Regions from separate parts of the Homo sapiens genome. Here all the other regions are linked to region 1. Evidence: fine-mapped expression QTL. A gene starts in region 1. Each other region holds a variant in brackets. All regions are shown on one strand. Distances are between the middles of the regions.

Region 1 (8,183 bases):
CGGGGACGGTGGCTCATGCCTGTAATCCCAGCACTTTGGGAGGCCAAGGCGGGCGGATCACGAGGTCAGGAGATCGAGACCATCCTGGCTAACACGGTGAAACCCCGTCTCTACTAAAAATACAAAAAAAATTAGCCGGGTGTGGTGGCCGGCGCCTGTAGTCTCAGCTACTTGGGAGGCTGAGGCAGGAGAATGGTTTGAACCCAGGAGGCGGAGCTTGCAGTGAGCCAAGATTGCGCCACTGCACTCCAGCCTGGGCGACAGAGCAAGACTCCATCTCAAAAAAAAAAAAAATTATCTGGGCTCAATCCTGTAGCCTTAGCTACTCAGGAGGCAGAAGCAGGAGGATTGCTTGAGCCCAGGAGTTCAAGGCTGTAGGCTGCAGTGAGCTATGATTGTGCCCCTGCACTCCAGCCTAGGCCATAGAGTAAGACCCTGTGTTTATAAAAATAAAAATTTGACTCATTATGGAATTTAGAGGAAGTAATTTGCTAATTTCTGAAAATTGTTCTTGAATTTCTTTTAAGCAGTTTCATCAATTCATTCTTTTACTCTTTTTCTTTTGAGACAAGGTCTAGCTCTATCACCCAGGTGGTTGTGGAGTGATGCAATCATGGCTCATTGCAGCAAACTTCCTGCCTCGTTTTAAATTTTTTTAAATTTTTTGATTTTTTTTTTTTTCTAGAGACGAGGTCTCACTATGTTACCCAGGCTGGTCTTGAACTCCTAAGCTTAAGCAGTCCTCCCACCTTGGCCTCCCAAAGCGTTGGGATTACAGGTGTGAGCCACTGCGCCTGGACTCTTTTTTTTTGTTTTTCTGAGACAGAGTTTCACTCTGTCGCCCAGGCTAGAGTGCAGTGGTGCAATCTCAGCTCACTGCAACCTCTGCCTCCTGGGTTTGAGTGATTCTCCTGCCTCACCCTCCCGAGTAGCTGGGATTACAGGTGTGTGCCACCATGCCTGGCTAATTTTTGTATTTTTAGTGGAGATGGGTTTCATCATGTTGGCCAGGTTGGTTTCGAACACCTGACCTCAAGTGATCCACCCACCTCAGCCTCCCAAAGTGCTGGGATTAAAGGTGTGAGCCACCGCACCTGGCCTCCCGATCTCTTTTCTTTGTTTTTAAATAGAGAAGGGGGTCTCACTATGTTGCCCAGGTCAGTCTTGAGCTCCTTGCCACAAGTGATCCTCCTGCCTGGACCTCCCACATGCCAGCCCAGACATTTTTTATAATTCTGTTCAAGTTCAGTTATACGGCTTCCTCAGTTTCAAGGAGGAATGAAATATTACTTGGAAATAATTTGCTTGATGCTTATATCATTGAATATAACACTATAATTCTAATTTAGCTCCTCAAACCCTTTCTGGAACCGTCTTGATTGATCAGGGCTGTGCCTCATCAAATTCTGCACATTTGTTACTATTTGACAGTTATTTCCATTATTTTCAGTTGTGTGTAAAATTGTTTTAAGGAAGTCTAGGGCTCAGAGATCTATGTCTGTGCAGATATGCAGAAGAACTTCCTCTAATACTTTAAAATTATTAACTAGTGGATGTCCCTGGGATTTAACTTTCATCCAATCAAGGGTGAAAGTTCAGTCTGTATATTCTTTGAGCTCCTTATGTTGTTGAATCCAAACCGAAGTTTCTTTTGTTTTCACTTCTTTTTCAGTATTAATATAAATATAGTATTTTATTATCTTCTAAGTGGTATTTCACCCACTTCCTTATTTTGAGGGTGATTGTGTGGCAGGCTTAGTTGCAGGGGGCCCACCCAGTAAGCTGCTTCAAAACCCTCCTCAGCCTCAGGTGTGAACTGGCCATGCTCCCTGTTAGCAAGGGTTGATGGATTCAATTCCTTCATTCATCTAATCATTCACTTAGTAAGTCATTACTGAATGCCAAGGCTGCATTATGACTTTCAAGGGCCCTAAGCTCTTTTGCCTTTGTGGCTCCTTCCTGCCTGAAAACATACTTAAAATTATATTTTATGACTGTATTGCTATTAATGATGACTATAATCCAGACTGGATCCATTACAATATAGCAAATATATTATTTTTTTCTGAAAAAACTTTTTTGAGATGGGGTCTCACTGTGTCACCCAGTCTGGAGTGCAGTGGCCCGATCATTGCTCACTGCAGCTTCAACCTCCCCAGGATCAGGTGATCCTCCCACCTTAGCCTCCCAAGTAGCTGGGACCACAGGCACACGCCACCAAGCCCGACTAATTTTTGTATTTTTAGTACAGTCAGGGTTTTGCCACGTTGGCCAGACTGGTCTCGAATTCCTGGCCTCAAGTGATCCACCCATCTCAGCCCTCACAAAGTGCTGGAATTACAGGCATGAGCCACCGCGCCCAGTCATTTGTTCTGATTTTATTTTATTTATTTCTTTTATATATGTATTTTTGAGACGGAGTCTCCCTCTGTCGCCCAGGCTGGAGTGCAGTGGCATGATCTCGGCTCACTGCAATTTCTGCCTCCCAGGTTCAAGCGATTCTCCTGCCTCAGCCTCCCAAGTAGCTGGGATTACAGGTGCATGCCACCAGGTCAGGCTAATTTTTGTATTTTTAGTAGAGACGGGGTTTTGCCATATTGGCCAGGCTGGTCTCGAACTCCTGACCTCAGGTGATCCGCCTGCCTCGGCCTCCCAAAGTTAGGATTACAGACGTGAGCCACCGCTCCCGGCCTTTTTGTTTTTTTCTTTTCTTTTCCTTTTTTTTTTTTGAGACGGAGTCTCGTTCTGTCGCCCAGGCTGGAGCATCTTTAGCATGCGAGGTGGTCATGAACGACAAGGAGAAAAAACAAGGTGAAGGGGAATGGGGAGTGTTGGCAATTTAGATAGAATGTGCACGAAAGGTTTCAATGGGAAATTCTAATTTGAATAAAAACGCACAAAACGCGAGGAAAGCCTAGGAACACATCAGCCGTATACTTTGCCGTAGAGAAGTTAAGGATGAGGAACAGGCACCAAGAACAAATCCCAGCGTAAGGCTCCCTTTAAGTGCGGCTCCCAGGGTTACGTATTCCCATTGCCTACAGGCGAGGCCGCGGGTCTGTAAACAAGCGACTGCCGCTGCAACCTCCATTTTGCTTCCTGGCACCAAATCTAGGCTGACCTACTTACTGCCATCCCTTTCCCACTCCCGGTTTTCTTTTCTTTCTTTTTTTTTTTCTCGAGACAGAGTCTCGCTCTGTAGCCCAGGCTGGAGAACAGTGGCGCGATCTCGGCTCACTGCAACCTCCGCCTCCTGGGTCCAAGAGATTCTCCTGCCTCAGCCTCCCGAGTAGCTGGGATTACAGGCGCGCGCCACCCCGCCCGGCTAAGTTTTTGTATTTTTAGTAGAGACGGGTGGGGGGAGGGGGGAGGGGGTCACCATGTTGGCCAGGCTACTCTCGAAATCGTGACCTCGTGATCCGCCCGCCTCGGCCTTCCAAAGTGCTAGGATTACAGGCGTGAGCCACCACTCCCGGCCCTGGGTGCTGGTTTTCTTCACCTCCGAGTGAACAGCAGAGGGGGCTGTTGGGTGAGGGCCAGAAGAGTTGGGGAGGCACGAGGGCGTCCAGCGCTGCCCTCACTCAAGATGGCGGCCAGAGCCTCGCGCTTGGTCGCGTGGGGCGGTGCGTGAGTGCTTAGCTCACAGGCTCCGGGACCGCGCTCGGGGGCGGGTCTATAGTGGGAAGGGGACGCGCGCCCTGCGGCCCGGCCTCTAGTCATCGCCCTCGCAGCGGCGGCCAACATCACCGCCACTGCCACCCCTCCCAGACTGTGGACGGGAGGATGGAGTCGATGGCCGTCGCTACCGACGGCGGGGAGAGGCCGGGGGTCCCAGCGGGCTCAGGTCTGTCGGCTTCCCAGCGTCGGGCGGAGCTGCGTCGGAGAAAGCTGCTCATGAACTCGGAACAGCGCATCAACCGGATCATGGGCTTTCACAGGCCCGGGAGCGGCGCGGGTAAGAGCCTCGATTTCCCCTCAGTCTCCCGCCCATCACCTTGAATCTTCAGGGTCATTCTTCCCTCTCCCACCTCCACTCCTCTGACCTTTTTGACCAAGCCTTGCTCTTTGATTTCCTCTCTGTCCCGCCCCTTCGGTGATATCCCAAGTTCTCATCCCTGAACCCCAGGATGTTCCTAGTCGCTCCCCTCAATTTTCCCGGGGCCTCGCCGTGAGATTTTCCCCACCCTGCCTGCAGAGCTCTCACTCCCTCTTCCCAGTTACGTTGAACAGCCCCTTTTTTCCTTAGCCACTCCTCGCCTTTCTTGAAGGGCGCACGTTGTATCCCCAGACTGTCATGTCTACTGCTCCCCTTAGGAAGATGGCTTTCCTTCTTAAGGTTCCAAGTGCTTTTCCTTACAGTGCCTTCTCTAGCGTCTACCTTCTTTTGCCTTTTGCTGTGTAACTCCTGTCCGCCCACATCAGCCTGTCTTTACTGAACTGCCCGCTAGTTCATCCTACGTGTATCAGGGACTCTTGTGCTCATATCCTAGTGTTTGTGTTCAGTGCCGTCAACACTGTCACCTACGGGCCGGCTAGAAAAGGTGGGAAAAGTGAGAGTGAGCATTCTTCAGAGACCCAGCAAGTGCGAAGTGCACACCTGAGAGTTTCCTCTCCTCATGAGGGGATATTGTTGTGATTGATGTCTGGAGCTGCATTTCTAAGGAGAGCGCCTCCTTCCTCCCCCAAACACATGTCCAATGATTTTCTTTAAAAAAAATTTATTTCACGTGAGTATAATTGAGCAATTAGCGCGCCCTAGTGTTATCTAAGTTTCCAGTGTTTCCTTTAGTAATTGGCCTTTAGTCACTGGTCGCAAGCTCCTTATATCTTTGTGACTTTTGTTCTGTAAGGCTTTAGGTGTATAGCTCTGAACTTTTAGGCAGTTCAAATGAGAGGTAAGAAAACCATTTCAAATTCTTCTAGAACAATAGAAGAAACATTTTTCTATCGGGCTATTTATTCTTAAAGCATTATTTATGATCTTACCTGAGGTACTTTCTATATTTTGTTCTTTTGCTTTGAAAATTTTATGTCTTTAAAGGTTGTTTTATTTTTTGAGACAGGGTCTCCCTCTGTAGGCCAGGCTGGAGTGCAGTGGCATGATCATAGCTTACTGCAGCCTCAAACTCCTGGGCTTAAGCAATCCTGCTACCTCAGCCTCCGGAGTAGCTAGGACCACAGGTGTACACCACCATGCCTGGCTAATTTAAAAAAAAATTGTGTGTGTGGAGATGGGGGGGTCTCACTATGTTTCCTAAGCTGGTCTGGAACTTCTGGGCTCAAGTGATCCACCAGCCTTGGCTTCCAAAAGTGCTGGGCTTACAGGATTACAGGTGTGAGCCATTGTGCCTGGCCTTTTTTTTAAAACAAAAACAAAAACAAAACCCCAGAGTAGTGTCTTAAAACTGCTGAAGTGCCTACTAATGGCTGCCTGACTACATAAACAGTAGCTTTGGGATATGCCACACCCTATGCTCATAGGGCACTGGATTCAGAAATCTAATTTTAAAATATAGATTTTAAAAGGCTTTACTGATTTTATATTTTTAACCAAATAAGCTAAGGCAGGCAATGCAATCATACATCTGGGATATATTATCCATAAAAAGTTGGTCTTTTCAGCTTGCTCCATCTCTGAATATCTTTCCCAGTTTGTCTACTAATCTTATCTCCTACCCACAAAGTTTGGGTTATTTCCTCTGCAGAATATTCATTTTGGGTGATACATTTTGAGGGTGTAGAGGAAGAATCCAGCTTTTTTCTTTTTTTTGTTTTGAGATGGAGTCTCACTCTGTCGCCAGGCAGATGCAGATGGAGTGTAGTGGCGCAGTGTCTGCAACCTCCTCCCCCCGGGTTTCAAGTGATTCTCCTGCCTCAGCCAGAGTAGCTGGGACTATAGGCAGCTGGGACTACAGACACACGCCACCACACCCAGCTAATTTTTGTATTTTTAGTAGAGACGGGGTTTCACCATGTTGGCTAGGATGGTCTCAATCTCTTGACCTCATGATCCGCCCGCCTCAGCCTCCCAAAGTGTTGGGATTACAGGCGTGAGCCACGGCACCTGGCCGAAACCAGCTTTTCTTTAATGCAGAATCGGTATTTATTTATTTTGATGCAGAGGCTGCTGAGTTCTAGCTGCAACAGCATATTTTAAAACATAAACATGTAAGGTGTTTGCCAGTATGGAATAAATACATAAGGCTTTTACATTTCTTTTCTCAGAAGAAGAAAGTCAAACAAAATCAAAGCAGCAGGACAGTGATAAACTGAACTCCCTCAGCGTTCCTTCCGTTTCAAAGCGAGTAGTGCTGGGTGATTCAGTCAGTACAGGAACAACTGACCAGCAGGGTGGTGTGGCCGAGGTAAAGGGGACCCAACTGGGAGACAAATTGGACTCGTTCATTAAACCACCTGAGTGCAGTAGTGATGTCAACCTTGAGCTCCGGCAGCGGAACAGAGGGGACCTGACAGCGGACTCGGTCCAGAGGGGTTCCCGCCATGGCCTAGAGCAGTACCTTTCCAGATTCGAAGAAGCAATGAAGCTAAGGAAACAGCTGATTAGTGAAAAACCCAGTCAAGAGGATGGAAATACAACAGAAGAATTTGACTCTTTTCGAATATTTAGATTGGTGGGATGTGCTCTTCTTGCTCTTGGAGTCAGAGCTTTTGTTTGCAAATACTTGGTAAGAAAAGATCTGTAAATTATTAACTAACTTAATGGAAAATGCAAAATGTTAATAATTATGAGTGCTTTTGATCATAGAAGTCATTGCCAGTATTAATATCTACCAGATCCATGTGGCTGTTTGAAGATATATTATTAACTTTGCTATTCATCTCATAGAATGAAGTGTTCTGGTTAAATACAGAGCCTAATAATTACTGTTGGCCCTCCATATCAGTTGGTTCTGCACCCTATGTGGATTCAACCAATTGTGGATTGAAAATATTTGGATTTAGCCGGGCGTGGTGGTGCACGCCTGTAATCCCAGTTACTTGGGAGGCTGAGGCAGGAGAATCGCTTGAACCCGGGAGGTGGAGGTTGCAGTGAGCCAGGATAACGGCACTGCACTCCAGCCTGGGTGACAGAGTGAGACCCCGTCTCAAAAATATATGTATGTGTATATATTTGGGGGAAAAATAACAATACAACAATAACAAATAGTAAATAATACAAATAAAAACAGTATAACAACTATTTACATTGCATTAGGCATAAAAAATCTAGAAATGATTTAAAGTATATGGGAGGAAGTGAGTAGGTTATATTTACTGTGCCGTTTTACATAAGGGACTTGAGCATCTATGGATTTTGGTATCAGGAGGAACCTGGTACCAGTCCTCTGCTGATACTGAGGGATGACTGTACTAAAACCCATTTTTCATTCTACGGACCTTTCTCATTGTTTTGCATACATTAATTCATCTAATCCTCATTCTTATGAACTTGGTATTATGTGAATCCATTGGGAAATGAAGACTCAGAGAGGTTAAACCATTTGCCCAAGGTCACACAGCTACTAAGCGGTGCTAGGATTAAACCCTGGCAGTTTCAGTCCTTAACCAAAGGGTTAAGTGCTTTACATATATATACTGTATATTATCAATTTTCAAATAATTTGAAATAGTAAAATGCAGTTCCTCTGGTCCTGAATATGAGGTAATCTTCCTATGGTTCAGAAGACATTTCAGCATTTCCTAATATATCATAATGAGTCCATTTTGGTTGTACCATGATGTAGTCATTTTGTTTTATAGTATATTAAAGAATGCAGAAAAGCATAGCTCATAGTTCAGTGTCTTGCTCTGAGGTTTTTCCATTCAGTAGACATTTTAAGTATATGTACCAGGCACATAAATATCCAGATAATTAAAGTTTATATCATTAAGCAAAACAGTTTTTGTAAATCTTTTTTTTTTTGAGGTGGAGTTTCTTTCGCCAGGCTGGAGTGCAGTGATGTGATCTTGGCTCACTGCAACCTCCACCTCCTGGGTTCAAGCGATTCTCCTGCCTTAGCCTCCCGAGTAGCTGGGACTACAGGCATGTGCCAACACGCACGGCTAATTTTTTGTATTTTTAGTAGAGATGGGGTTTCACCGTGTTAGCCAGGATGGTCTCCATCTCCTGACCTCATGATCCACCCAACTCTGCCTCCCAAAGTGCTGGGATTACAGGCATG
Region 2 (8,183 bases), 25 kb after region 1:
TTCTAGCCCGTCAGCCTTCTCCTTTACCTCTCTGGTGTGCATGGCCTGTGCTCTAGGTTTGTTCAGGGAATCATGAAAGGCTTAGAGGTGGGAAGGCGCAAGGTGTTAGAGAAATAGCTAAAAAGCCCAATTTTTCTGCATATGTAGGTTTCATGAAGGGATTTTATCTTTTTTGAGAAGTAGTAGGAGGTAGGTCCTGAATAGGACTTGGGCCCAGAAAGCGGGTGGATTGTAGATTTTGAAGATCAGAATTTGTTTGTGAACCTTTGAAGATTTTGAGTAAAAAGTGTGTAATAGAATCAGAATTCTCCTTAGCAGCAATGAGTAAGATTTAATGGAAAAGTAATAGAAACAGGAAGACTACAGTCTTTAAGAATCTCCTAGGTAGATATGTCTGATATAGAATAGTGACGGTTGGAACTCTGTGGAGGTGATATAATGTGAAGGGAATTACAGAGGTGAAATTGGTATTACTTGGTTGTTTTTTTGTTTTTGTTTTTGTTTTTGAGACAGAGTCTCGCTCTTTCGCCAGGCTGGAGTGCAGTGGTGGGATCTCGGCTCACTGCAAGCTCCGCCTCCAGGGTTCACGCCATTCTCCTGCCTCAGCCTCCCGAGTAGCTGGAACTACAGGCGCCTGCCACCGCGTCAGGCTAATTTTTGTATTTTTTAGTAGAGACGGGGTTTCACCGTGTTAGCCAGGGTGGTCTCGATCTCCTGACCTTGTGATCCACCCGCCTCGGCCTCCCAAAGTTCTGGGATTACAGGCGTGAGCCACCGCACCCGGCCTGTTTTTTTGTTTTTGAGACAGGGACTTGCTCTGTCTCCCAGGCTGGAGTGCATTGAAACAATCTTGGCTCACTGCAACCTATGCTTCCCAGGTTCAAGAGATCCTCCCACCTCAGCCTCCCGAATAGCTGGGACTGCAAGCGTGTGCCACCACGCTTTGCTAATTTTTGTATTTTTTGTAGAGACAGGGTTTCACCATGTTGCCCAGGCTGGTCTCAACTCCTGAGGTCAAGCTCTCTGCCCACCTTGGCCTGCCAAAATGCTGGGATTACAGGCATGAGCCGCTGTGCCCAGCCAATTGGTGTTTTATTTATTGTATCGAATGAGAGCAAGAGAAAAATATTGATGATGACTAATGTTTTGAGCCTAGTGACCGGAAGTTGGTACGATTAATCGTTTGGGGAGGGAAGGGTAACAAGTTTGGGTTTCTACAGATTGAACTTGAGGTGCTTGAGAGATAATCAGGTGCATTCATCTCCTAGTGATCTTATTTAGGTTTATAGCTTTAAATAGCCTTTGTACACTAATAGCTGTCCAGTTTATATTTCTAGAGAAACCTCTTCCTTGAACTACAGGCTAATATTTCAACTATATACTATATATCTCCACTTGGATACCTAATATTCTGATCCACCTTCTCCCTGGATTTCTCCCTCAGCCTTCCCATCTTGGTAAATGGCAACTGAGTGATTTCTCTCTTGCTGTCACACTTGACATTTAGTTCATCATTAAATCCCATCGGTGCTAGCTTCAAGATATCCAGATTTTGATATTTCTCAAAATCTTTCCACCTTCCATTTTGATCTATGCCACCACTATCTCATGCCTGGATGATTGCTATAGTGCTGGTCTTTGCTAATCCTGCCTATTCTTTCTCCTTTTGTCCTTGCCTCCCTTTGTTTGGTTTGTTCTCTCAGCAACCAGAATAATACTTTAAAAACATTAGGCCAGGTGCAGTGGCTCACACCTGTAATCCCAGCATTTTGGGATTACATTAAGTGGAAGGATTGCTTGAGCCCAGGAGTTTGAGACCATCCTGAGCAACATAGCAAGACTCCATCTCTACAAAAATGAAAAATAAAAAGAAATAAATAGGTGGGCATAGTGGCACACGCTTTTATGCTTTTGGTCCCAGCTACTTGGGAGGCTGAGGTGGGAAGATGCTTGAGGCCGGGAGGTTAAGACAATCCTGAGCAACATAGTGAGACACCATCTCTACCCAAAAAAAAAAAAAAAAAAAATTGGTGGGCGCGGTGGTGTGTGCCTTTGGTCTCAGCTACTCTGGAGATTGAGGTGGAAGGATTGCTGGGGCCCAGTAGGTTGAGGTTACAGTGAGTAGCAATTGAGCTGCTGCATTCCAGCCTGGGTGACAGAGTGAGACCTTGTCTCAAAAAAGAAATTTAAAAAAATGATAAAAAGGCTGCATGCGGTGGCTCATGCCTGTAATCCATCCCAGCACTTTGGGAGGCTGAGGCAGGTAGATCACCTGAGGTCAGGAGTTCCAGACCAGCCTGACCAATGTGGTGAAACTGCCTCATCTACTAAAGATACGAAACTGGCTGGGCGTGGTAGTATAGGCCTGTAATCCCAGCTGCTTGGGAGGCTGAGGTAGGAGGATTGCTTGAACCTGGGAGGCAGAGGTTGCAGTGAGCTGAGATGGTGCTATTGCATTCCAGCCTGGGCAACAAGAGTGCGACTCTGTCTCAAAAAAAATAAATAAAATAAAATAAAAATAATTAGCTGAGTGGCCGGGCGCAGTGGCCCAAGCCTGTAATCCCAGCACTTTGGGAGGCTGAGGCAGGTGGATCACGAGGTCAGGAGATCGAGACCATCCTGGCTAACATGGTGAAACCCCATCTCTTCTAAAAATGCAAAAAAAATTTAGCCTGGCGTAATGGCGGACGCCTATAGTCCTAGCTACTCGGGAGGCTGAGGCAGGAGAATGGTGTGAACCCGGGAGGTGGAGCTTGCAGTGAGCTGAGATTGTGCCACTGCACTCCAGCCTAGGCAACAGAGCCAGACTCTTTCTCAAAAAAAAAAAATAATAATAATAATTAGCTAAGTGTGGTGACGCATGCCTGAAGTTCCGGCTTCTTGGGAGGCTGAAGTGGGAGGATTGCTTGAGCCTCAGAGAGTTGAAGTTGCAGTGAACTGTGAGCACATCACTGCACTCTATCCTGGATAATAGAGTGAGGCCTGTTTCTAAAAATAAAAATAAAAACATTAATGAGGTTGTGTCACTCCTCTGCTTAAAGTCTTCCAGTAGATTTTCATCTTGGTGTAAAAGACAGAGTCCTTATATAATGGCCAGTAAGGCCTTCCAGGTTTGGCTTCCCTGCTGTTTTTCTGACCTCGTCTTATGGCACGCTGTGTCACTCTTTCAACACTAGCCACAACTGGCATCCTTGCTGTTCCTTAAACTCACCAGTCAAGCTTCCTCTTTAGGGACTTTGCACTTGTGCCTTTTGCGTGGAAAATTCCCTGTATATCTACATGGCTCCTTTATTTCCTCCAAGCCTCTGTAACAAATGTCATATTTATATTGTATATAAACATACTATATACAGTGTTTGTTTCTTCACTTGTCTGCCGTCTTTTCCTTTACCGGAGTGTAAGCTGCCTGGAGCTCAAAGGCAGGAGCTTGGTCTGTTTTGTTCACTGTCCTTGCCTCTCTTTCAAGACAGATTTTCCACCTCTACATGTGTCTGTGCTGAAGCAGAAGGGTTCATTTTTTCCCTCCTAATTTTAGAAAAATTCATAAAAAGTTCTTTGAGTGTTAAATTTGTCTGCTGAAATTATTTTTAGAAAAAATGTAATAAAATGTAATAGAAGCTAATGGTGTTTGCTGAACTTAATCTTTGACTTATTGTTCTAGCCACTATCGAAAACGATCGGCATCCCGGGGTCGCTCTGGAAGTCGGTCTAGAAGTCGCTCACCCTCAGACAAAAGAAGTAAACGTGGAGATGACAGACGGTCTAGAAGTAGAGATAGAGATAGGAGGAGAGAGAGGTCTCGTAGCAGGGATAAAAGAAGATCTCGGTCAAGGGACAGGAAGCGTCTGAGGTAAGACATTAATTAATTTCCAAAAGACGAGTGATAAATTGGGCCTTCTCGGCTATAGCAGGCTTCTTGAAAAGTATGTTTTCAACTGGAGTTTGGTGGCCCAATTGCAGGCCCTTTTCTTTATCCCCTACTTGTTTGATTAGACCCAGAAGGATGTGCCTACAAAGACTCTATCAAACAGT[G/GT]TTTTTTTTTTTTTTTAATCTTTTTTGAGACAGAGCCTCACTCTGTTGCTCAGACTGGAGTGCAGTGGTATCATCTCTGCTCACTGCAACCTCCACCTCCTGGGTTCAAGCGATTCTCATGCCTAAGCCTGCCAAGTAGCTGGGATTTCAGATGTGCACCACCACACCTGTCTAATTTTTGTGTCTTTAAAAGAGACGGTGTTTTGCCATGTTGGCCAGGCTGCTCTCGATCTCCTGGCCTCATGTGATCCTCCCACCTTGGCCTCCCAAAGTGCTGGGATTACATGTGTGAGCCACCGTGTCCGACCATCAAACAGTGTTTTTAGTTTGGAAACTTTAGGCTGTATTTCCTGTAACCCAAAGACATCCCTTGAAGCCCTCTGAGGGACATACAAAATGAAGTAAAAAGTAAAGTAATAAGTTATATTCAAGAGGGTTCTATTCCAATTCTGCTCCAGGAGAGCTGACCAAGGTGTTAATTTTCTTTCCTTTTTTTTTTGCCACCCTTGTTGAAATTTGTAAAATTTCCTTCCTCTCTCCCTCCTTCCCTCCCTCCCTTCCTCCATCTCTCTCTTCCTTCCTCCCTATCTCCTTCCCTTCCACTCTCTCTCCCTTCCTCCCTCACTCTTTCTCTCTTTCTCTTTCTTTCTTCATTTTGCTAAACAGTGTGTTTAGAGCAGCCTCTAAAGCAGGCAGAAAAAGGAAACAAAGCAGACCCTCTCCAAGCCTCTTAAACTATTTTAATGAGCTGTCATAGATTTAAACTAAAGAGCGCCTTAATCTTTTTTTTTTTTTTAATTTATTTTTTTTTTGAGACAGAGTCTCACTCTGTCACCCAGGCTGGAGTGCAGTGGCACGATCTAGGCTCACTGGAACCTCTGCCTCCCGGGTTCAAGTGATTCTCATGCCTCAGCCTCTTGAGTAACTGGGATTACAGGCATGCTCCACAAAGCCTGGATAATTTTTGTATTTTTAATAGTGACAAAGTTGGCCAGGTATGGTGGCTCATGCCTGTAATCCCAGCACTTTGGGAGGCCAAGGTGGGTGAATCACGAGGTCAGGAGTTTGAGACCAGCCTGGCCAACATGGTGAAACCCCGTCTCTACTAAAAAAAAAAAAAAAAAAAAAATTAGCCAGGTGTGGTGGTGCATGCCTGTAAACCCAGCTGCTCGGGAAGCTGAGGCAGGAGACTTGCTTGAACCTGGGAGGTGGAGGTTGTAGTGAGCCGACATGGTGCCACTGTACTCCAGCCTGGGCGACAGATCAGGACTCCATCTCAAAACAGAAAAAAAGAAAATAATCTTCTGTGCACACCACACCCAGCCAATTAAAAAAAGCTTTTCATAGAGATGGGGGTCTTAACTGTGTTGCTAGTGGCCTCCCAAAGGGTTGGGACTACAGGTATGAGATACCATACCTTGCCCAGTTTCTCATTAAAATAGGAAAGGAAGACAAGATTGTGTTGTGAGTGGATCATAGAAAGAATTTAACTTTATCCTTTTCAGACATTGGAGTACATTGTTGTTACGTAGGATTCAGGGAAAATATTCACCCGTGACAATGTGGATAGCATTTTCACATTTTGTGGTCCTAGGAACAATTTCACACAATTAATTCAAGTACTTAAGTGAAAATGGTTATTTAACATTTGGTCTTTGACTTTTGGGTGTGAAAGTAGAATCACAAGATTTTAGAGCAAGAGGGATTTTAAAGATGTCTAGTGAAGTCTCCATATTTTATAGATGATGAAACTGAGACCCAGAAAGTTGGAGATCTGACCTTCATCATGTCATTAGTTACCAGGAGTAGCAGGATAGAAATTCTTGCCTCTTCATCTTCAGATTAGTGATCTTTTAGTAGACCCATTATGCCCATCCTTATACTTAGGTTTAGGCTATCTGAAACTAGATATTCTATCTTAGACCATCGATTTTCAATCGATGTTAATTACAGACTTATTATGGTTTTTTCACAAACATCTTTATGAAATTAGTATTCTCTGGCCTGGCATGGTGGCTCACGCCTGTAATCCCAGCACTTTGGGAGGCTGAGGCAGGCAGATCACCTGCGGTTGGGAGTTCGAGACCAGCCTGACCAACATGGAGAAACCCCATCTGTAAAAATACAAAATTGGCTGGGCATGGTGGTGCATGCCTGTAATCCCAGCTACTCAGGAGGCTGAGGCAAGAGAATCGCTTTAACCCAGGAGATGGAGGTTGTGGTGAGCTGAGATTGCGCCATTGCACTCCAGCCTGGGCAACAAGAGCAAAACTCTGTCTCCAAAAAAAAAAAAAAAATTAGCCGGGCATGGTGATGCACATCTGTAATCCCAGCTGCTGGGGAGGCTGAGGCAGGAGAATCACTTGAACCCAGAAGGCAGAGGTTGCAGTGAGCTGCAATTGTGCCACTGCACTCCAGCCTGGGTGACAGGTGTGAGACTTTGTCTTTAAAAAAATGAAAGAAATAAATTAGTATTCTCATTTTTTTCGTTGAGCACTTATAAGACTTGGCTTTACTTCATTGAGACCTCCACCTTTAATAATGGTAGTGATTAAGATTCTTTCAATGTGGGACAGAATCCCCTGATCTGAAATAGTAGCTCCATTTGGTCATAGAATAAATGAAAAGTGTCCCCCTTTCAGACGTTCCAGAAGTAGAGAGAGAGACAGAAGCCGAGAGCGAAGAAGATCTCGAAGTAGAGACAGGAGACGCTCAAGGAGTAGAAGCCGGGGCCGGCGATCCCGATCCTCCAGTCCTGGAAATAAAAGCAAGAAAACTGAGAATAGGTAATGTTATCATTGGGCTGCATCTATAGTGCAGACTGGGGACTGCTTCCCTTCTCTGCGCCTTTTTTTTTTTTCCCTGTAAGTTTGTATTTATAGAGAATTAACTGCATTTGGCTCCTACCATGAACTGTTGGCAGTGTTTTATTTTAATTGGCTATAATGTTTATAATTCAACTGGAAAATAATAGATTCTGTCAGTTTTAACATTCAATACATTGTATTCTTACTTAATACATAACTGTCAATCAGAAATGTATTTTATAGACATCTTTGTAGAAACTCTGTCATTTTCTTTTCAGGCAGGGTCTCACTCTGTTGCCCAGGCTGGAGTGAAGTGGCAAGAACATAGCTCACTAACCTTAAACTTGTAGACTCAAGCAATCCTCTCACCTAGGCCTCCAAAAGTCCTGGGATTATATGAAGAGGCAGACATAATATCCCAGCTAATTTTTATGTTTTTAGTGGAGATGGGGTTTTGGCATGTTTGCCAGGCTGGTCTCGAACTCCTGACCTCAAGTGATCTGCCCACCTCGGCTTCCCAAAGTGCTGGGATTACAGGCCTGAGCCACCGCGCCCAGCCAAGACTTGTCTTAAAAGTTAAGAAATTAGGCCAGGCGCGGTGGCTGACGCCTGTAATCCTTGCACTTTGGGAGGCCAAGGTGGGCGGATCACCTGAGGTTGGGAGTTGGCGACCAGCCTGACCATTGTGGATAAACCCCGTCTCTACTAAAAATACAAAATTAGCTGGGCGTGGTGGCGTATGCCTGTAATCCCAGCTACTCTGGAGGCTGAGGCCGGAGAATCGCTTGAACCCAGGAGGCAGAGGTTGCGGTGAGGTGAGATCATGCCGTTGCACTCCAGCCTGGGCAACAAGAGTGAAACTCCTTCTCAAAAAAAAAAAACAAAAAAAAGTTAACAGAAATTAAGACAATGTGCAATTTGTTTAGCAGTGGACAGACAGATTAGTGAACCATGTAAAGAGCCCAGAAAGGCATCCATACACATGGTAATTTGATAGATGACAGAGGTGATGATGTAATAAGTGAAGATTTTTTTTTTTTTTTTAACAGCCAAAGTCTCGTTCTGTTGCCCTGGCTGGAATGCAGTGGTGCAATCTCGGCTCACTGCAACCTTCGCCTCCCGGGTTCAAGTAATTCTCTTGCCTCAGCCTCCCGAGTAGCTGGGACTGCAGGTGTGTGCCAACATGCCCAGCTAATTTTTTGTATTTTTTAGTAGAGATGGGGTTTCACCGTGTTAGCCAGAATGGTCTCGATCTCCTGATCTCGTGATCCACCCGCCTCGGCCTCCCAAAGTGCTGGGATTAAAGGCGTGAGCCACCGTGCCTGGCCAGAAAAATTTTTAAAT
Region 3 (8,183 bases), 510 kb after region 1:
GACTCAGAGATGTTACATGACTTGTCCAAGTTTTTCCTAGCTAGGAAGGAAATAAAAATAGGATCCCAACTACTTCAAACACTTCCCTCTAGACTGTAAGCAACGCGGGGGCAGAGAATGGCTAGTCCTGCTCTCTGCTGGCTCCTCTAGTGTGTTTGTCAAGGTGCCTGGCATACAGCAGAACTGCGCGAGTGTGTGGTTGAGCCCAGGTCTGCGTGTTTCTGAGCCCATGCAAGGTATTTGAAAGTTCCTCTGAGCTCTTCTTTTTGCCCTGTGGCAGCCCCCTTGCCTTCCCTGGAAAGTACTGCTTGTTGGTGGGGGGAGGTCTCGGGTTGACAACACCCTACCGCCAGCTCGCTAGCCCCTTTAGGCCCCGAAGAAACTATTGAGTCATGCATTTTGCTTGGGTTTTGATGATTCGTGATTCATGCTTGTGAGGAAGGCAAGGGAGTGACTCATGCTGATTTAATAAGCTTAGGAATAGTCCTGAGAAGTGGCTGATAAAGTGCCGGCTGGCAGCCCACTCCCCCGTGGCTGCCAGCGCCAAGTGCTCAGAAATCACCAGGTTAAACAAGTCTGCAGAAAATTCAATCTTCCCGGCATGATTTTCCTTATTTGAGCTAATAGCATGAGGCGCCTTTCTCCTGGCACTGCGAAGTGCACCGGTGGCCTTGCCGTCTTCCCTGGGGGCGTGGGGGAGAAGGAGAGCAAATGCCTTACGTTTAGCGGATGCGCTAGGAACGGCTAGGACCTCCCAGGGTTTGCCTTGTGCCCATGGAACCAGCAGTTCCGCCCCAAGGGAAGCCAGCCGTGTGTCCTAGTGCCGGAATGATGGGGTAATGCCAGTGAGCCGCCCCTTCTCCACAGGGTACTGAGAACGAGGCCAGGCAGCAGCTGTCCTGGCCTCTTGGCCCTGTCAGGACTAACACACCTGGGTTGGGCCCACTGGGGTCAGGTTACTCACGGTAAGCAAGTGCAGGTGGAGAGAGGTGGCCCAGAGGAGCAGGCCAAGGTGGCAGGAGATGGGTCATTTCAAATGGCTCGCCAGCAGCCCAGGGGATCCCTGACATCTAGCAGGTATTGACATTGGGATTAACCCTGTGGGTCGATGGTTCCGTGCTGATTCCTCATGTGCCTCTGCGTCAGATTGCTCAGGCAAGAGGGCTGGAGAAAAAAATCAGAGATGCACCCAACTTGGTCAGTATCTGTGCAGCGATCCTGTTATGGTTGGCAGTCCCTTACTTTGAAGCTCTGATTCCTTTCAGAAGCTTCTGAAGTTCAAAGGAGCAGGTGGGGGTGGATAGGTCATTGAGAAAGGGCAGACCCTGTTCAAAAGTAAGATACTTCCTAAATCTGGTCTCCTTTCTGTAAGTTCTTTGGTGTCCCTCCCCATATGTGTTGAGCCCCTTGTGGCATGTTAAGCTCAGTGCTGGGACCAGCCAGGGGAACAAGGGTTCTGCCTTCATGAGTCTGAGACCTGTTTAGAGTGCAGCCTCTCCTCCCACTTTCCTCTCCTCTCCCCTCCTCCGATGCATCTATCCATCCAAAAAAATGCTATTGTGATAACACACATAAAGCATTTAGCATTATGATCAGCTTCATAATTGCTAGTTTTTATTTCATAATTAATATTATTAGGTCAGATGTGGTGGCTCACACCTGTAATACCAGCACTTTGGGAGGCCGAGGTGGGAGGATCACCTGAGGTCAGGAGTTCAAGACCAGCCTGGCCAACATAGCAAAACCCCATCTCTATTAAAAATAGAAAAATTAGCCAGGCGTGGTGGTGCACGCCTGTAATCTCAGCTACTCTAGAGGCTGGGCACGAGAATCGCTGGTACCCGGGAGGCAGAGGTTGCAGTGAGCCGAGATCATGCCAGTGTACTCTAGCCTGGGTGACAGAGCAGACTTTGTCTCAAAAAATAAATAAATAGATAATGTTTATTGCTATTATTTGACATCTCTTGCATGCCAGGCAAAAAAAAAGGTGAATACTGGTGCAAATTGGTGAGCGTGTTATGTGACAGCTGGAAATCCTAGAGCTGGTCTAGCCTCACCCCTCATGCTGCAGATGGGGATACTGAGGCCTAGAAAGAAATGAAGAGATTGATGGGAGTCTCATAGGGAGGGCATGGCTAGGCCAAGCCTGGAACTCAGGGCTCCTTCTGCCGTGGCATGCAGCTGTCATGCTGGGATGGGGTGGTCCGAGGAGGCTTCCTGGAGGAGGTGGGTTTTGAGATGAGCCTTGGGATGAGAGTAGGAATGAGATCAGCAGGAGAGGAGAAGCGAGAAAGGGCAGAGCACAGTGGCCCAGGATGGTGTGGAGGAGGGAGCCACAAGGGGAGAAAGGTCAGGAGAGACTGGGTGGGGGGCACCAGAGCCATCTCTGTAGCATCTTTTGAGGAGTGCCGCAAAGGCCTCACTGCTCCCACATCCTGCACTCTGCCACTGCCATCAGGTACTTCCTCCTGGCACGTGCAGATCAAATGGTGGCCCTGGGGCCCGAGGCTCCGTCTGCTTGCCTGCCTCAGCGCTCATGCTCAGTGGGGACCCATGGGTCCAGGCTGGAAGTCACAGGCCAGGCATCCATGCTGAATGCATCTCTCCTGGGAGAGCAAACCCATTCAGTCATAATTTGCCATTAACCCCTTATATTAGTTTCCTAGCCCTGCTGCAACAAATTGCCACACACCAAGTGGCTTAAAACAACAGAAATTTATTCTCTCAGAGTTCTGGAGGCCAGAAGTTCAAAACCCAGGTGTTGGCAGGGTTGACTCCTTCGGGAGGATGTGCGGGGTGATCTGTCCTGCTTCTCGCTCGTGGCTTCTGGAGGCTGCTGGCAGTCCTTGGCATGCTGTGGCTTGTGACTATGTAACTCTAGTTTCTGCCTCTGTCTTCATGTGGCCTCCTGCTCTGTGACATCTCTTCTTCTTATAAAGGCTCTTGTCATCAGGTTTAGGAACAACCTGGTTGAGTCAGCCTGGTCTTCATCCTGAGATCTTTAACTTAATTATATCTGCAAAGACTTATTTTTCCAAATAAGTTCATGCTCATGGGTCCTGGGTGGACGTATCCTTGGTGGTGGTGGGGCAGTGGGGCACCATTTTCGCTACACCCCTGGAGCAGTGTGACAGTGTGGCCTTGGGAGATGAGTCACAAGGGAACTTTTGTTGAGATAAGAGGATAAGTCTGGGTGAGACATTGCACTGGGGATCCTGGGCAAATTCCCAGAAGTGTTTGGGCCTTGGCTGTAGAGGTTTTTCTGAGACTGAAGACTCAGGACCCAGCTCTGAAGTGATGATCAGGGCTTCTTGATAGGCACCGCCATGTTGGGGATGGACCTCTGTGCCCATGGTCCACTCGGGGGCTCATCCAGGGCAGTGCTATCCATCAGAACCTTCCGTGGTGATGGAAATGTTCTTCAGATCTGAGCTGTGCAACACAGTGGCTCCTAGTCCTGTGTGTCTATTGAGCTTTTGAAATACCCGCTCTGGCTCGTGCAGCTGAAGGACTAGATTTTTTACTTCTATTTAATTTTAATTTTAATTTTAACTTAGATAGGCCTACGGGACTAGTGGCTTCTGTACTGAGCATCACAGCTCCACAGTGTCTTGATTTCACCCCTTCTCCTCGTCTGTTTTTCATTTCACTATCAAAAATGTAATTTAACACAAGAACTGAAATTGTTCTTTTGTTTTTTTTATGTACGTAATGCTTAAAGTTTTAACTTTTGGCTTAGAGACAGAGGCCAGATGGAGTTGACTGGTTTTAGGCCCAGTACAAGAAAGCATGGCCTCCTCTTGCAGTGAAATGGAAAAGAGGAGTGTTTTCCTGTGGACAGTGCTGTGGCTCACAATTGCCTGGTAGTTAAG[C/T]GGGAGAAGCAGTTGGAGAGGCTGCAGTAAAATCTACAGTCACTGGCAGCAAGGAGGTTGCTGCAAGGTTTCTTTGAGCCAGAAAGAAGGGATGAGAACCCATGTCCACATCCCTGGGCCTTGTTTGGAAGTCTATGAGTTAGGGGTTCTTTGCTCTTTATCATGGTTTCTGAGAAGCCACAGGTGAAATTTGGGTCTCATAAAGCAATTTTCCCCCAAATTACTCCTCGTATTCCTGCTTCCACAGATGGATATTGTATACTGTCTTGCTTTAGAGTGAGGATATTTATTTTTGCACACTGTTTAGACATGATCTTAAACAACACTTCATTTATTTACACGTTGGCATGTTTTTGACCCTTCTGGATGAAAAATAAAGTGTTTGCCTGAGAGCAGAAAATCTCCAATGAGGCGGCTCTTCATAGGGTGATGGGATCTTCATGGGCTTAAACTATATGGGCTTTAAGCTCAAGCTCATCTCCTTTTCCTTGCTTCTTCCTGGCAAACCAGACACAGTAGCATCAAGACTCAAAGCGCCTGCCTCTGTGCTTATGCTCCATGGGCACCCATGTGTCCAGGCTAGAAGTCACAGGCCAGGAAGAGGAGGAGGTTCTGGGCCTCAGACTCTGCTAATGCAGGCAGATCAGGCCTATTTTAGATGGGGATTTGTAGAGGTGTCTACTGCTTGGGGTCATGCTAGCACTGCGCTGTGTACATGTAAGACACAAATTAGGGATTTAGAGGCGCGGAGGCTGCTGAGTGTTGCTAGGCAACCTTTCAGCTGGGCCTGGCGGTAACACAATCTCTGGGAGCAGCCCGGTAGGAAGGCCTCCTAAGGACAAAACTGAACTTTAGAAACAGCGTCTTCTGCAACTGCACCTGCCTCGCTTGCCTCTGGAAAGGGTGGGGGCAGGTCAGCAGAGCCATGCTGTTATATAAGCTACTTGGGGGAATTGTGCATCCGTGGATTCTTTATGTGTTATGTCTTCTTTTCCTTATGTATTTATTTATATCCCACCTTGTACAAAAGAGGATCTGTGGTGGCTTTCAGAAACACTGATGTTGCGGCAGGACAAACATTAAATAAGAAGAACCTGGGGCAAATGGAAAGGAAGGGTAAGAAAATAGGAGTGTGGTTTGTCACTCAGCAAGGATACTGAGGATTTACCATGTGCTTGGCTCTGTAGATACAGCAGTGAACAGAAAAACAGCCATGGTTCCTGCCCTCCTGGAGCTTACAGTCTAATAGGAAAGGTGCAGGGGTAGGGTGGGGGAGGGAGGAAGAAAGGCCATTATGGATCCAGTGCTTTTGTTGAGGGTAGGCTGCAGATTAGACTGTGAGTCTCCTGGCGGCCAAAGCAAGAGGTGACTACAATTATGAGGGACTGGGTATGTTATCAGTGTTGTGTTGGTAACAGTACAGCGACAGTAGCTTCATCCTACTGTCCTGGGTGTGCAGATTATGACACAGGTGCCGCCAGGCCCTGTGCAGAGATGCTCCCTTCTTTCCTGCTTTGCTGTCAGCCTCCCTTTGGCACCAGCCTCCTGGTTGGGTTCATGTCATCCAGGACATCCTGGTGGCCATCCCTCAAGTGAAGGGCTTGGGTGCTCTTGGGCCCAGCCAGTCCCAGAACTCTTCCCTGCAACCTTCCACTCATGTCCTAGGCCAGACTGTTCTCTCCTTCTAGAATGCCACTTACCTCTGTTGTCTCTGTCTTCTCTCCTTGCCCATTTAGGGCCCTTTATAGTTTCTAATGTGCCCTTTACTGATAGCATTTTATTTGCTTCTTCCAGTGATATGGTTTGATTCTGTGTCCCCACCCAAATCTCATCTCGAATTGTAATCCCCATGTGTTAAGGGAGGGACCTCTAATCCCCACATGTTCAGGGGAGAAGTGATTGGATTATGGGGGCAGTTTCCCCCATACCATTCTCATGATAGTGAGTGAATTCTCATGAGATCTGATGATTTTATAAATGGTAGTTTTCCCTGCACTCTCACATGCTTTCTCTCCCTTGCCGCCATGTAAGACATGCCTGCTTCCCCTTCCACCATGATTGTAAGTTTCCGGAGGCCTCCCCAGTCATGCAGAACTGTGAGTTAATTAAACCTCTTTTTTTTTTTTTTTTAAATAAATTACCCAGTCTTGGGGAGTGTCTTTATAACAGTGTAAGAGCGGACTAATACATCCAGCAACCTGGTGAGCTATCTGTGATTTTAGTCATTTACAGCAAAAGGAAGCAGAGGCACAGCCTGGCCTGGGTTTGCCTGAGGTTCCACAGCTTCCTGACCCCATTGACGCCTATCTTTGGCTTCATCACATTTGGCATATATGACTTTGCTTCTATAGTGGGCATGCAGCTTGCTTATAGACTCTGGAAGAGCCTAATCCTTCTGCTTCTGGCATCTCTCTGGGAGGCAGGCCAGAATTTCATTACCCCTTCCATGATCAGGCCAGGGTCATCCCTTCATCCCATGGATATGAGTATCTGAGGTCTCATTCTCCCAAGGCAGTCGTTTTGTTTGTCTGTCTGTCTGTTCATTTGTTCATTCAACAAATATGTCTCGAGCAAGCCAGGCACTGTGTACTAATCACCCACCATCCTTGCCCTCAAGGAGCTCACAGTTTAGTTGAAGAAGGATCAACACATGTGAGATGACAGTGCAGAATAAAGAAAGTGTGAGTGTGAGTTAGGGTATTAGTCAACAGCAGCACTGGGTGCTTAGAGTGACAGGAGGTCTGGGACCAAGACATATGGAATGGTTGTAAGGTCTGAACAAATTTAGCCTAGTTGTGTTTTTATTTCAGTTGCTGTTGATTAACACTCTAACTCACACTCACACCTTCTTTATGCTGCACTCTAATCTCACATGTGCTGATCCTTCTAATTGGGCAAAGTTCACTTTAAAGTGCAAGGACATCGAATGCCATATACCCTTGTACGACTTACCCATAGAAGCAAGAAAGGCCTTACCTCCTGTGTTCTTAGAAGCATACTTCTATTAATGCACCCTTAATTTGCAGCAGCCTGGTGGTATAAGAGACAGCCTTGGATAGGTATGCCTGCATTGTAAGCCTCTCATACAAGAGGAGACTTCTTGAGCACTTGGAGACATAGGGCCCTCTTTTCCCTGAGGATTGTTGAAGGAATCTTATTTAAGAACATGAGGGCAAGTGCCTTGTGCGTGTCCCATTAATGAATGCTGCCCGCTCTCAGGTTACATAGCAGTGGTCTTGGATGGATTTCAATGTTTTGATCCCTCTTTAAAGAAAGCAACCGCAGCTATCCCAATTATGAATTTGGAAATACCCTTGAGCAGCCGTTGGGGTGAGAGTCGATTGGGCCATTGTGTTATCATTCCACGCATCTCCCAGAGATAGAGACCTGTATAAGTAAAACCATATTTCTGTTTTTTACGATCCAAGATACCAATCCCAGGACTATCGGGCAGACTCAGGAAGCAGCACATGGGGAACATTCTCAGACTTGGTAAGTAGCTGGCCTGCTGATAGAGGAGATTAAGGTGCTTTTGATCTCTTCTCCCCTAATGACAATGTCTCTAGTTTTAAAAATGACTGGGGGAAGTCTTTCTTTGAACAGTCAAGAGGCTGCTTCAAAAAGAGCTCACACTATTTCTAGACAATGTGTCTGGGAAATTATGCTGCTGAATTGTAAGTGGAGTTAGATGAATTTTCCCTTCTGCCCCCTTGAAATCATGACTTCGCCATTCAGATGCATTAGCTGATGACCCTCAGTGCACCAAGGCTCCCCACTTTCTCCTGGAGTCAGGCCACCTGTCGAGGCTCCAGCCCCTCAGAGGTCGGCTCTGGACAGTCACACCTGTCTGCATTTGCCCGAGGAGTCATTTGTATGCTTTAGGGCATTGCTTTGCTGCCATACTCTGCAACCTCCATCCAATCTTGGCCCTCTGCCTGTTATTTTGAGCAGGTAACCTAGGGAGAGGGACCTCCTGAAGACAGCAGAATGATGTAAAGGTATTCTGGTGAGATTAAGTCTGGAAGCAGCAATTCCTTGTGCAAGATGTGTGAGGGAAAAAAAAATATGTGAGTGTTGCTTTGGCCCTGAATGCGTGGAGAGCTATATGAATTAGTAGAACTCAGATGTCAAATCATCAGTGAAAGAAAATCTGGCTTAAGTAAACATTTAACACCTCACTCATGTCTTCATGACATGGAGATTAAGAGTGTGAACCTTAATGTAGACTGCTTGGGTTCAAGTCCCAGTGTCTCCAGTTATTAGCTGTGTGGTCTTGGGCAAGTCATTTAATTTCTCTGAACATAAATTTCC

Alleles and levels. Alleles are on the strand shown, and positions count from the first base shown. SD is a standard deviation of normalised expression in the study named. Not every link is listed here.
In carriers of allele G in region 2, the expression in monocytes of the gene that starts at base 3,711 in region 1 tends to be lower than with GT alone (moderate effect, 0.74 SD a copy in Kim-Hellmuth 2017).

What was found.
Region 2: its variant is fine-mapped to the expression of CAMLG in monocytes (Kim-Hellmuth 2017, PIP 0.95).
Region 3: its variant is fine-mapped to the expression of CAMLG in monocytes (Kim-Hellmuth 2017, PIP 0.95).

Annotation. Positions count from the first base shown.
Region 1 is chr5:134,734,838-134,743,020 of GRCh38, forward strand. CAMLG (calcium modulating ligand) reads left to right here and starts at 3,711. Exons shown (of 4, transcript NM_001745.4): 1 at 3,711-3,955; 2 at 6,226-6,686. The coding sequence starts at 3,784. RefSeq lists an enhancer at 3,299-3,348.
Region 2 is chr5:134,760,243-134,768,425 of GRCh38, forward strand. DDX46 (DEAD-box helicase 46) reads left to right here. Exons shown (of 23, transcript NM_001300860.2): 2 at 3,662-3,850; 3 at 6,675-6,818. Among named protein-coding and RNA genes, the nearest start is that of DDX46, 5.6 kb to the left of the region's middle. The variant G/GT (reference allele first, on the strand shown) is at 4,033.
Region 3 is chr5:135,246,649-135,254,831 of GRCh38, forward strand. All of the region lies in intron 3 of PITX1-AS1 (PITX1 antisense RNA 1), which reads left to right. LINC02900 (long intergenic non-protein coding RNA 2900) reads right to left here and starts at 1,529. Exons shown (of 4, transcript NR_037895.1): 1 at 1,478-1,529; 2 at 965-1,164. RefSeq lists an enhancer at 1-1,178. The variant C/T (reference allele first, on the strand shown) is at 3,873.